Linked DNA regions of Homo sapiens. Each later gene encodes a partner of the first gene's protein in a complex. Links are inferred from orthologs where the notes say so. Each region holds a gene or a part of one and is shown in the gene's direction. Other genes may lie near its edges. The genes, in order: CPLANE2 and FUZ.

The links.
Region 2: the proteins of CPLANE2 (region 1) and FUZ are in contact, whole or in part, in a cryo-EM structure (PDB 7Q3E), measured with the Mus musculus proteins. The link is inferred for Homo sapiens from one-to-one orthologs. Residues at the interface, in NP_001074643.1 of Mus musculus: Glu36, Gly38, Leu39, Leu40, Glu41, Arg42, Val83, His84, His85, Glu86, Thr88, Gly89, Ile90, Gln91, Thr92, Thr93, Val94, Lys124, Phe125, Met128, Glu134; in NP_081652.2 of Mus musculus: Arg26, Arg35, Ile109, Val110, Lys126, Glu127, Arg129, Ala130, Tyr132, Cys133, Asp136, Gln215, Ala216, Ala217, Arg218, Asp219, Tyr220, Pro221, Tyr223, Pro232, Leu238, Thr239, Leu240, Leu241, Arg242, Pro255, Leu256, Gly257, Gln258, Pro261.

The regions. Positions count from the first base shown.
Region 1 is NC_000001.11:16,233,996-16,241,197, reverse strand, and holds the start of CPLANE2 (ciliogenesis and planar polarity effector 2), read left to right. Parts: upstream 1-4,014; 5' UTR 4,015-4,455; coding exon 4,456-4,567; intron 4,568-7,202. UniProt on the Homo sapiens protein: Required for efficient primary cilia initiation, regulating a late step in cilia initiation. Plays a role in the final maturation of the mother centriole and ciliary vesicle that allows extension of the ciliary axoneme.
Region 2 is NC_000019.10:49,806,196-49,810,407, reverse strand, and holds the end of FUZ (protein fuzzy homolog), read left to right. Parts: exon of another isoform or gene 1-832; coding exon 833-1,030; exon of another isoform or gene 1,031-1,095; intron 1,096-1,149; coding exon 1,150-1,245; intron 1,246-1,381; exon of another isoform or gene 1,382-1,488; intron 1,489-1,584; coding exon 1,585-1,691; intron 1,692-1,769; coding exon 1,770-1,834; intron 1,835-1,916; coding exon of another isoform or gene 1,917-1,919; coding exon 1,920-1,994; intron 1,995-2,248; coding exon of another isoform or gene 2,249-2,274; exon of another isoform or gene 2,275-2,293; intron 2,294-2,697; exon of another isoform or gene 2,698-2,838; intron 2,839-3,012; exon of another isoform or gene 3,013-3,033; coding exon 3,034-3,257; 3' UTR 3,258-3,542; downstream 3,543-4,212. Other genes in the region: AP2A1 (AP-2 complex subunit alpha-1), read right to left, coding at 3,650-3,727, 4,155-4,212. UniProt on the Homo sapiens protein: Probable planar cell polarity effector involved in cilium biogenesis. May regulate protein and membrane transport to the cilium.

The DNA.
Region 1 (7,202 bases):
GCTCTCAGATGTAAATAGAGCAACCTTATAAACCTGGATTTTTTTGGTACAACCCTGACCCATTTGCTACATCTTTTTTTCTATGAAATATGTGAATGGCAATAAATTCATCTAGACTAAAAAAAAAAAAAAAAAAAAAGGTAATGAAGGGTGAGCATGGTGACTGATGACTGTAATCCCAGCACTTTCAGAGGCCAAGGCAGGCAGATCACTTGAGGCCAGGAGTTTGAGACAAGCCTGGGCAACAAGGCAAAACCGTACCTCTAAAAAAATACAAAAGAAAAAGTCCGGGCATGGTGGCTAATGCCTGTAATCCCAGCACTTTGGGAGGCCAAGGCGGGCGGATCACCCGAGGTCAGGAGTTCAAGACCAGCCTGGCCAACATGGTAGAACCCCGTCTCTACTAAAAATACAAAAATTAGCTGGGTGTGGTGGCAGGCGCCTGTAATCCCAGCTACTTGGGAGGCTGAGGCAGGAGAATCACTTGAACCTGGGAGATGGAGGTTGCAGTGAGCAAAGATCGCGCCATTGCACTCCAGCCTGGGGCACAAGAGCGAGACTTTGTCTCAAACAAACAAACAAAAATACAAAAAAAAAAAAAATTAGCCAGGCGTGCTGATATGCACCTGTAGTCCTAGCTCCCCTCGGGGCTGAGGCAGGAGGATTGCTTGAGCCTGAGGAGGTCGTGGCTGCAGTGAGCTGAGATCACACCACTGCCCTCTAGCCTGGGTGACAGAGTGAGGCCCTGTCTCAAAAAATAAAAGAAAAAGGTAATCAAGGTTAAATGAGACCATAAGCATGGAGCCCTAATCCAGTAGGACTAATGTCCTATTTGTAACAGAGGAAGAGACACCAGACATGTATAAGCACAGAGAAGAGGCCATCTGTAAGCCAGGAAGAGAGGCCCCACCCAGAAACCAACTCTGCTGGCACCTTGATCTTGGACTTCCAGCCTCTAGAACTATGAGAAAATAAATTTCTGTTGTTTAGAGTACCCAGACTGTGGTATTTTTGTTACAGCAGCCTGGGCTGACTCATATAGACCCCAACTTCAGAACTGCCTAGTGCTTTTGTCAAATCTGCAGGCTCACAGACCTACCCAGCCCCTGACACAGAATGTCGGGGTTGGATGTGTGAACCCCAAATATCTGAGACAGGTCACAGTCAATTTAGAAAGTTTATTTTGCCAAGGTTAAGGATGTGCCCGTGACAGCCTCAGGAAATCCTGAGACATATACCCAAGGTGGTCAGGGGTACAGTTTGCATTTAAGTTTTAGGGAGACATGAGACCTCAATCAATATGTGTAAGATGTACATTGGTTTGGTCTGGTAAGACAGGACAGCTTGAAGCAGGGGCTTCCAGGTTAGAAATACATAAGAGACAAGGCCAGGTGCAGTGGCTCATGCCTATAATCCCAGCACTTTGGAAGGCTGAGGTGGGCGGATCATGAGGTCAGGAGATCCAGACCATCCTGGCCAACATGGTGAAACCCCGTCTCTACTAAAATACAACAACAACAAAAATTAGCCGGACATGGTGGGGCATGCCTATAGTCCCAGCTACCTGGGAGGCTGAGGCAGGGGAATCACTTGAACCTCAGAGGCAGAGGTTGCAGTGAGCCGAGATTGTGCCACTGCACTCCAGCCTGGGCGACAGAGTGAGACTCTGTCTCAAAAAAAAAAAAAGTAGATAGGAGACAAAAGATTGCATTCTTTTGAGTCCTTGATCAGCCTTCCACTGAATACATAATTTTATTTATTCAGCTCTGTCACCCAGGCTGGAGTGCAGTGATATGATTCTGCTCACTGCAACCTCCACCTCCCAGGTTCAAGCGATTCTTCTGCCTCAACCTCCAGAGTAGCTGGGATTACAGGCGCCTGCCATCACAGCCAGATAATTTTTGTATTTTTAGTAGAGACAGGGTTCACCATGTTGGCCAGGCTGGTCTTGAACTCCTGACCTCGGGTGATTTGCCCGCCTCAGCCTCCCAAAGTGCTGGGATTACAGGCGTGAGCCACCGCGCCCAGCCATTTTTTTGTATATTTTTAGGGATAAGGTTTTGCCATGTTACCCAGGCTGGTCTCAAACTCCTGACCTCAAGTGGTCCACCAGCTTCAGCCTCCCAAAGTGCTGGGATTACAGGCGTGAGCCACCGCACATGGCCCCAAGAGGACTTTACATCTTCTCTGGGTTGCAGATTAACAGGCACGTTCATTCTGCCAAGTTGCTTCATTTTCTCACACGCTCACTGAGCCCTCCACGAGCCAAAGATGGGTGGATGTGAAGTCTGGAAATCCAGAAATAATTCAGATCAGAGCCCTGCCACTGAGTGACTCCTGGCCCATGGAGAGAGCTCTGGACAGCTGTGAATCTCCCTGACTGGGCAGATGTGACAGCTGCAGGAATGGGAACCATGTGACCTGGGAGTATGGGCAAAGGATTCCACCTGCAGAATCCTGTAGGAATGGTTATTCATCTGGTTTTTCTGCCTAGCCACAGCGTGAGCAAGTTGAGAGAAAGCACCTTGTCTTACACATCCTCATCCCCTCTCTTAGACATAATGGGCCTTAAAAATCTGTGAGTTCGTAGTCCTCTGGCTGCTTTCTGCTTCCCTAGGAACAGCCCTCCTAGTGGCTAGGGGCAAAGTTTTAAAAACACAAAACCCAAACTGGCAGAACAGATAAGTACTTTAGAGTCAGGTAAGTGTGGGTTCTTTTTTTTTTTTTTTTTTTTTTTTTGACAGGGCCTAGCTCTGTCACTCAGGCTGAAGTGCAGTGGCATGATCTCGGCTCACTGCAACCTCCATTTCCCGGGCTCAAGCAATCCTCTCATCTCAGCCTCCAAGTAGCTGGGACTACAGGCGTGCACTACTGTGCCCGGCTAATTTTTGTATTTTTTTTTTTGTAGAGGCAGGGTCTTACTATGTTGCCCAGGTTGGTCTCAAACTCCTGAGCTTAAGCAATCTGCCCGCCTCAGCTTCCCAAAGTGCTGGGATTACAGGCGTGAGCCACCACACCCAGCCAGCTGTGGGTTCTGAGTCGGTTTCACACTGACTAGCTGTGCGGTGTGACCTCAGACAAGTCACGTTATGTTTCTGAGAGTCTTCGTCAGTACAAGAGGGTAATACTATTTACACAGGTTTGTTTATAGAATTAAATCAGGTGACCCCTGTAAAGTCCCCACTGTCTGGCACTTGGGTGGCCTTAGGTAAAGCTTAACTCCTAAATTATTCCTTTCAAAACAGTGATTTGCCCTACTTGAAGGCATTGCGGAAAGATAATGGTAAAAATTAAATGTAATAGACAAACTCTCAGTAATGACCCACCTGCACTCTTTCCAACCAGTGGGCATTTACTGAGCACCCACCTTCTGGGTAACAGGCCTGGTGTCCAGTGCTGGAACGGTGGAGAGGAGCTCAGAGTTTCAGAGCTGAAAAGTCAGCTCCAGGAGAGCAGGGACTTCTTGTTGGCCACTGTATTCCCAGCTAGGTGCTCAGTATTTGTTGAATGAATGAATGAATGAAAAATACAATCCAGCGGGCCTCTGACTCATTTTTTAAAACTTGAGCCAAGTCCCTTGACCTCTCTGAGCTGGTGTGTGTCCCCATCAGTGAAGCCAGAGATGTTTAAGTCATCTAGAGGTCCTGCCAAGCAGGATTAATAGAGCAATAATATTAATAATAGCAACAATCATAACTAAACATATGGAGCACTGCTATGGAGGGAATAACATGTTACGTCCACGTTATAGAAGAGGAAACTGAGACACAGAGAAGCATGAAAGGCTCCTGGAGGGGGGGTTTCATGATGTTTTGGAAGAAAGACTAGGGATCGGACGGAGTCATAGAGAAGAGGATCCACAACCCAGAGGAAAAGGCCTAGTCCAGAGCCACCGCGCGGCGCAGGCTGCGGACGTTGTAGGAGGGACGAACGCCTCCCGGAACCCGCCCAACCCAACCTCCGGCGTCTCCATGGCAACAACCTCCGCACATGCGCCGCGCGCACCTGCGCCGGAGCTGCCAGCACGCGCAGAAGGCGGACGCAGGCGGGGCGGAAGTGGGCCCGGCGGGCTGGGGCGGCGGGAGTGCGGGTGGGCGTTTAAAGGGGCCTTCGGCACCCAGGTCGGTTCGCCGCCGGGACTGCTGACGGGGAGGGCTAGGTAGCCCTGGGAGTCGGGATCTAGAAGGTAGAGGAGAAGCGGGGCTGTCTGACCCCCGGAGGTGACAAGGGGAGAGGGGCTGTGTGAATACCCTCCATGGGCAGTAATGGGATGACTATCCCCAGGGAGCATTGCGAAGGAGAGAGGCGGCTGAGGGACTGCACTTTCTGGGGCCCCCCGGGAGAGTCAGAGGGCAGTTAAGAGGGATCACAGGCCCGGCTTGGTACTGTCACTCCCCTTCCCACTCCCTGCTCTCAGCATTCTGTCACCTCCCTACCCCGTCGCGGTGCCCAGCCATGGCCAGACCTCCCGTGCCCGGTTCGGTGGTTGTCCCAAACTGGCACGAGAGTGCCGAGGGCAAGGAGTACCTGGCTTGCATTCTGCGCAAGAACCGCCGGCGGGTGTTTGGTAAGTGCCTCCCCCTTTCCTCTAGCCCGCCACTTGTCTTTCCCTGGGGAGAAGAGTGTCACCTGTTGCTCCCTGAGGAGAGCAGAGAGGCAGGGCAGTGAGGGCCTGCTCCACTGCAGTCTTCAGCAGTCTTCAGCCTGGGGGACTGAAAGCCCTAGCTCTGGGACCCCCACACCTAAATCTCCTTAGAGCTAATTCCATCGTCAGAGCCAGGAACATGGAAACAGCAGAAACCTTGCCAGCAACCACTGTCACCAGAGATGCAGTTGATTGAGCACTCCCCTGGTGCCAGGCCCTCTGTTGGGCACGTTACACAGTGCACGCCCATTTAACCTCTCAACAGCACATGGTACAGACTTGGCTAAGATCACACCCCAATAAATAGAGGTGAGCCTCTTCCATGTCCTGCTGTCTCTGGGATGAGACGCTGGTGTTCCCCATGGTGAAACTGACTCACCCAGGCAGGGCCCAGCTGTCAGGCCGGCAGAGGTGCCTGGAATCAGCTGTGGAGCCCAGCTCTGGCCAGGAGAAGCAAGGTGCCAGAAGACTTAAGACCAGAGAGTGAGATAGCTAGAACCAAAATTTGTGAATAAGTCAACTGTTTGTTTGTTTTTTTAAAAGAAATTATATTAAATTCAAAAAATGACCCTCTAGAAGGCTGGGCGCAGTGGCCTGTAATCCCAGCACTTTGGGAGGCCGAGGTGGGCAAATCACCTGAGGTCAGGAGTTCAAGACCAGCCTGGCCAACATGGCGAAACCCCATCTTTACTAAAAATACAAAAATTAGCCGGACGTGGTGGCGGGCACCTGTAATCCCAGCTACTTGGGAGGCTGAGGCAGGAGAATCGCTTGAACACAGAAGGCAGAGGTTGCAGCAACCCTAGATCGAGCCATTGCATTCCATCCTGGGTGACAAGAGTGAAACTCCGTCTCAAAAAAAAAAAAAAAAAAAAGACCCTCTAATATGGCCACTGTCCCTCTAATCCCATGATGGCTGGCAACACTGTATTTGGGGTCACACATACCCAGGCAAGTGACCCAGGCTCCACCACTGCTAGCTGTATGGCTGGGAATAAGTGAACTCTAGCCTCAAGTCCCACCTCTGTAAAATGGGGATAATCACAGTATTTACCCCATAGAGTTACTGGGGAAATTAATAAGGAGGGTGTTTGTAACATACCAAGCAGGTTCTGGCATGCAGTGGGTGTTCACTGAAGGTTGGCTGTTATTGTATTTATTTTGCATTTAGTTGTGTTGAGTGGAAGAGAATTGAGTGAAGGTTGAGCTGATTTTCTGGGAACATCATAGAATCCACTGACCATATTATCTATGCCACAGATAGGATTAAGCAGCCATAACTTAGAGGAATGGCAGTGATGGCTTTTAATTTTTGTGTTTTTACTTTAACTGCAGACATTTGGGTTTTTTTTTAACAGCTGGGTTTATGCACCTGAATGTATCATTCAGTGGTTGTCATGCAGGCCCCACAACAAACGCTGAGAGCAGCTAGTAAATAAATATCAACAGACTGACTATAATGCTTAGGCTAGTCTCTTTGTATCCCAGACTTCTGTAAAATTAGGTTGAGTATTAAGAGCCACAGATGAGGCCGGGCACGGTGGCTCACGCCTGTAATCCCAGCACTTTGGGAGGCTGAGGCAGGCAGATCACCTGAGGTTGGGAGTTCGAGACCAGCCTGACCAACATGGAGAAACCCCATCTCTAAAAATACAAAATTAGCCAGGCATGGTGGCGCATGCCTATAATCCCAGCTACTCGGGAGGCTGAGGCAGGAGAATCACTTGAACCCGGGAGGCGGAAGTTGCAGTGAGATCACACCATTGCACTCCAGCCTGGGCAACAAAAGCGAAACTCCGTCTCAAAAAAAAACAAAAAAGAACCACAGATGGTTGGTTAGCCCTGAAGAAGCCATTAGAAATGAGGTTGTCCTTGGCTGTATGTGGTGGCTCATGCCTTGTAGTCCCAGCACTTTCGGAGGCCAAGGTGGGAGGATTGCTTGAGCCCAGGAGCTCAAGACCAGCCTGAGCAACATAGTGAGACCCCATCCGTATTAAAAATAGAAGGTAAAGAAAAAAAGTAAAAATAAATAAGTGAGACTGTCCAGCCCAGGATCTGATGGGGCAAGTGCAGGATTTACCCGCGTCTTAGTCCATTTTATGCTGCTACAACAGAATACCACACTCTAAGTTATTTATTTATTTATTTTTTGAGACAAAGTCTCGCTCTGTCGCCCAGGCTGGAGTGCAGTGGTGTGATCTCGGCTTAGCAACTTCCACCTCCCAGGTTCAAGCAGTTCTCCTGCCTCAGCCTCCCAAGAAGCTGGGATTATAGGCACCCACCACCACACCCAGCTGATTTTTGGTATTTTTTTTTGTAGAGATGGAGTTTCACCATGTTGGCCAGGCTGGTCTCGAACTCCTGACCTCAGGTGATCTGCCCGCCTTGGCCTCCCAAAGTGCTGGGATTACAGGTGTAAGCCACCGCACCAGGCCTCCTCTGTGTAATTTATAATGAACAGAAGCTTATTTGGCTCATGGTTCTGGAGGCTGGGAAGTCTAAGAACATGGCAGCAGCATCTGGAAAGGGCCTTCATGCTGTGTCATCCCGTGGCAGA
Region 2 (4,212 bases), on another chromosome or scaffold:
CCACCGCGCCCGGCTGACATTCAGCTATTTTTTTTTTTAAGAGATGGACTAGGGTTGGGGATGGGTTTCCATTAAGTTGCCCGGGCTGGTCTCGAACTCCTGGGCTCAAGCAGTCCTCCCGCCTCAGCCTCCCATAGTGCTGGGATGACAGGTGTGAGCCATCACACCCGGCCACCAGAAGAACCCTACTATATCCAGAGCTGGCTCTGCCCCTTTCCTGCTCACAGCCCTCCGGCAGCCTCCACCTCCCCCAGGACAAGGTCCCAGCTCCTCAGCCTGGTGTTTGAAGGCCTGTGGCACCTGGCACCCCCTAACCTGTTGCTAAATCCACAGTCTACTTCCACCCAGCTACCTCACAGTCCTGAGATCCCAACAAGTTTCCAACCTCAGTGCATGTTCTTCCTCCTGCCTCTCAGATCTCTAGCTACCTCTACTTAAATACTGCTCTTGTGGACTTGCCTGGTGTGGCGGCCTCCCAGGCATGTGACTCTCAGCAGGTGACTTGGCTTCTCTACGTTGCTAATGGTGCCTACTCGGCATGTAACAGGCCTGGATGAACGGTAGCTGCTGCGGTTACATTATTAGCTTCAGTTTGCCCGCCCAGGCTAGATGTTTAATCAGATTTCACAGACTTCACAGTGTGAGTTGGGGATGTGACTTCGTATGAAAGTGAAGGAACTCAGGCTCAGAGAGGGTGAGACGTAGGAGCATGGCCACTGCGCGAGCTCGGGGCTGGCTGTGGGTTTCTCCCCATTCCCTGCCCATCTGGGAAGTCGCTGCCACCCCCTACGCTTGTCTGCTGACTCCCAGTCCTCCTGCCTCCCGTACCCAGGAAGCCCTCTCCGGGTTCGCTGAGGCCGCGGGCACGACCTTCGTCAGTCTGGTGGTGTCCGGCCGGGTGGTGGCAGCAACAGAGGGTTGGTGGCGGCTGGGGACGCCCGAGGCCGTGCTGCTCCCCTGGCTGGTGGGGTCCCTGCCGCCGCAGACCGCTCGCGACTACCCGGTGTACCTGCCGCACGGGAGCCCCACGGTGAGTGGGTGGCGGGCACCGACGGAGGGATGTGACCTGGGGGCCGAGTCGCGAGGAGGCGGGATCTGCGATGGAAAGGGGCCGGGCCGCGATGAGCCCCAGCCTGTGCCCTGCTTCAGGTCCCACACCGGCTCCTGACCCTGACTCTGCTGCCGAGCCTGGAGCTGTGTCTACTCTGCGGGCCGAGCCCACCCCTCAGCCAGTTGTATCCACAGGTGAACCCGCGCCACGTCCCGCTTTCGCTCTTAGGACACCCGCTACCAGGAGGGCCCTTCCCCACCACCCTGCCCTGCCAGCGGCATCTTTCCCCAGCCCCGCCTCTTCTGGACTGCGCTCCAGTCATTCACCTACCCGCCAAGATCGGCCGCTCCCGCCTCTGCCTCTATTCTTCCAGGCCTCGCCCCTTCCCCAGTCCCTTCTGCCCTCCGCCCTCCACTCTTCTTGCAGGCCCCGCCCCTCCCGATTGACCACGCCCCTATCCTTGTACACCCCCCGACCTCCCCCGCCGGCCCCGCCTTCCCATGACGACCTCACAATGACCACGCCCCCTGCAGCTTCTGGAGCGCTGGTGGCAGCCACTGCTGGACCCGTTGCGGGCCTGTCTGCCGTTGGGACCCCGGGCGCTGCCCAGTGGCTTCCCCCTTCACACAGACATCCTCGGGTAGGGCTCGGATGGAGGGAGTGGGTCGGGGGTCATGTCCTCTTCCCCAGCCATGACATTCCCTTCCCTTTCCCACAGGCTGCTGCTCCTCCACCTGGAACTGAAGCGCTGCCTCTTCACCGTGGAGCCCTTGGGGGATAAAGGTGACTGAGGACAGGGGCAGGGGCAGGGGTAGGAGGGGCGTGGGCCGGGGAGGCGCTCTGCATCACCGCCTTTTCCTCCCAGCAGAGCCTTCACCAGAACAGCGCCGGCGCCTCCTCCGAAACTTCTATACCCTGGTCACCTCCACGCACTTCCCACCAGGTCAGCGGAAGGCACAGTGCTCCCACTGCGCAGGCGGGGACACTGAGTCCCAGGTCGCACAAAATGGGAGTAGGAGGTGGGGTTGGAGGATCCGGAGGAACCCAGTATGCACTGGGCCATAGGGCAGTGGTTTTCCTTGAGATCTGAGCATTGATGCAGATGGGAAGGGAGGGGAAGGGAGGTCCCCGCCTGGCTTCAGAATCTCCTGGATCATAGTCAACAATAGTTAACACTGAGACCTCACCTCTTCCCAGTGCCTTTACACGTAATGAAAGAATGAAATCACTTCATCCTCACAGGTGAGGACTATCCCATTACCTCATCATTCCCATATTACAGATGAGGAAACTGAGGCTCAGCTCATGAGTGGCAGAGCCATATTTGAACACAGGGGATCTTGCTCCCATATCCACACAGTCCAGCGCTCTGCACAACTGCCAAAAGCACAGGCTTTGCTGATAGGCTGAGGGTATGGAGGAGGATTTCACAAGATTCTGGGTTAGAACGGAAAAATTGTCGTAGAACCCTTAAGGGCCCAGAAAGACAAAGAAAGGGACCTGGGATGGCGCTGTGACCCCAGTGAAGCCCGGATGAATGCAGCACAGTGGTCAAGAGCTCCAACTCGGGGGCTGCACCCCTTCTTAGCTGTGCGACTCCACCTCCCACTGGCCCCTGCCTGTTTCCCTCCACCCGCCTTGTACAGTGGGGCGGGTGGGCTCCTGGAAAAGGCTACAGGAGCTCCTGTGTTGCTGCCGTGTTCGCCATGTGTATTGCTAAGAGGATCACCTGCAGCTGCACAGTTTCTCCAGGAAAATGGGGGCCAAGGCTGAGAAAGAGGAAGAGGGTGAGCTGAGTGACATCATTGTGGTCTTCAAGTTGCTGACAGCCAGCTAGAGCCCCGAGGCCCTCCCCTGGCAGGAGGCTCCCAAAACCTGTGTTCAGAGACCCCACGCGTTCAGAACTTGGGATCAGGATGTGGTGTGGCTTGCAAAGGTTAGCATGCTACTTGTCATGTCAGTGCCCCCTGTTCTTTCTCCAGAGCCAGGGCCACCAGAGAAGACAGAAGATGAGGTCTACCAGGCCCAGCTGCCCAGAGCTTGCTACCTGGTGTTGGGGACTGAGGAACCAGGCACAGGAGTGCGTCTGGTGGCCTTGCAGCTGGGGCTTCGGCGGCTGCTGCTGCTGCTGTCTCCCCAGAGTCCCACCCATGGGCTGCGAAGCCTGGCCACCCACACTCTGCATGCCCTCACCCCACTTCTTTGACTACCTAGCAGTGGGTGATGGACACAGACATGGGGCTGTTAGCGTCTCTCTGTTTATTCGCTCACAATAATACACAGCCCCTGGATGGGGAGGGGGTAGGAGGGGCTACAACAGGGTGGGGTGGGAGGGGAGGAGACATCCACTTCCCTGGCCCCTCTCCCCTCTGTGCTTGGGGGGGAAAGGGAGGGAGGGGGACTCCCCCTAACCCCCCAGAATGTAAACAGCAGCAGATGAACAAAAATAAAAATACAAAAGGCCGGAGGAAAGTCCCAGGCATCCCCCAAACCCTGGTGTCTTCTCTGTCACCAGTGGAGGTCCCCCATCCACCAAAACTGCCTCAGTCCAAGGGGCTGCCCAGTGCCGGCCACATCCCCCGGGGCAGAGTCCAGGGCTCAGAACTGCTGTGCCAGCAGCTCACACAGGTGACGGGAGACGGGCTCCTTGCTGGTGCGCAGGGTCAGCCGGTACATCTGGGTGGGGGCATTGGGGGCAGAACTCAGAGGAGATGGGGAGCCCAGGGAAGTCGGGACCCAAGGGAGATAGAAGGAAGGAAGGATAAAGGGGCCAGAAAGGTGATACAAGACACAGGAGAGAAAAATGTAAGACTGAAATCAACAGAGGCGCCAGAGAGGAAGAAAATTATAAAAGATGAGAGAAAGGTGGAAAGGATATGGAAAGGTAGAAATCAGGGAGGGACAGGAAGAGGAGAGGAACACCAGAGGTTGGAGACAGGAGATTAAACTGATAGATAAAGAGGAGTAAAAGTGGACAAAGAAATGTGAGAGGAGGAGGGTCAAAGTGGGGACGTGAATTAAAGAACAGTGAGGCAGGAAGGGTGGACGCAGAGATGACAGGCGGCCTTCCTGCCGGCCTCAGGCCTCCCACAGCAGCACTCACCTGGGCCTGGGCATTGGGCTCCAGCCGAAGCAGACAGCCCACCTGCAGGGCTTTAGTC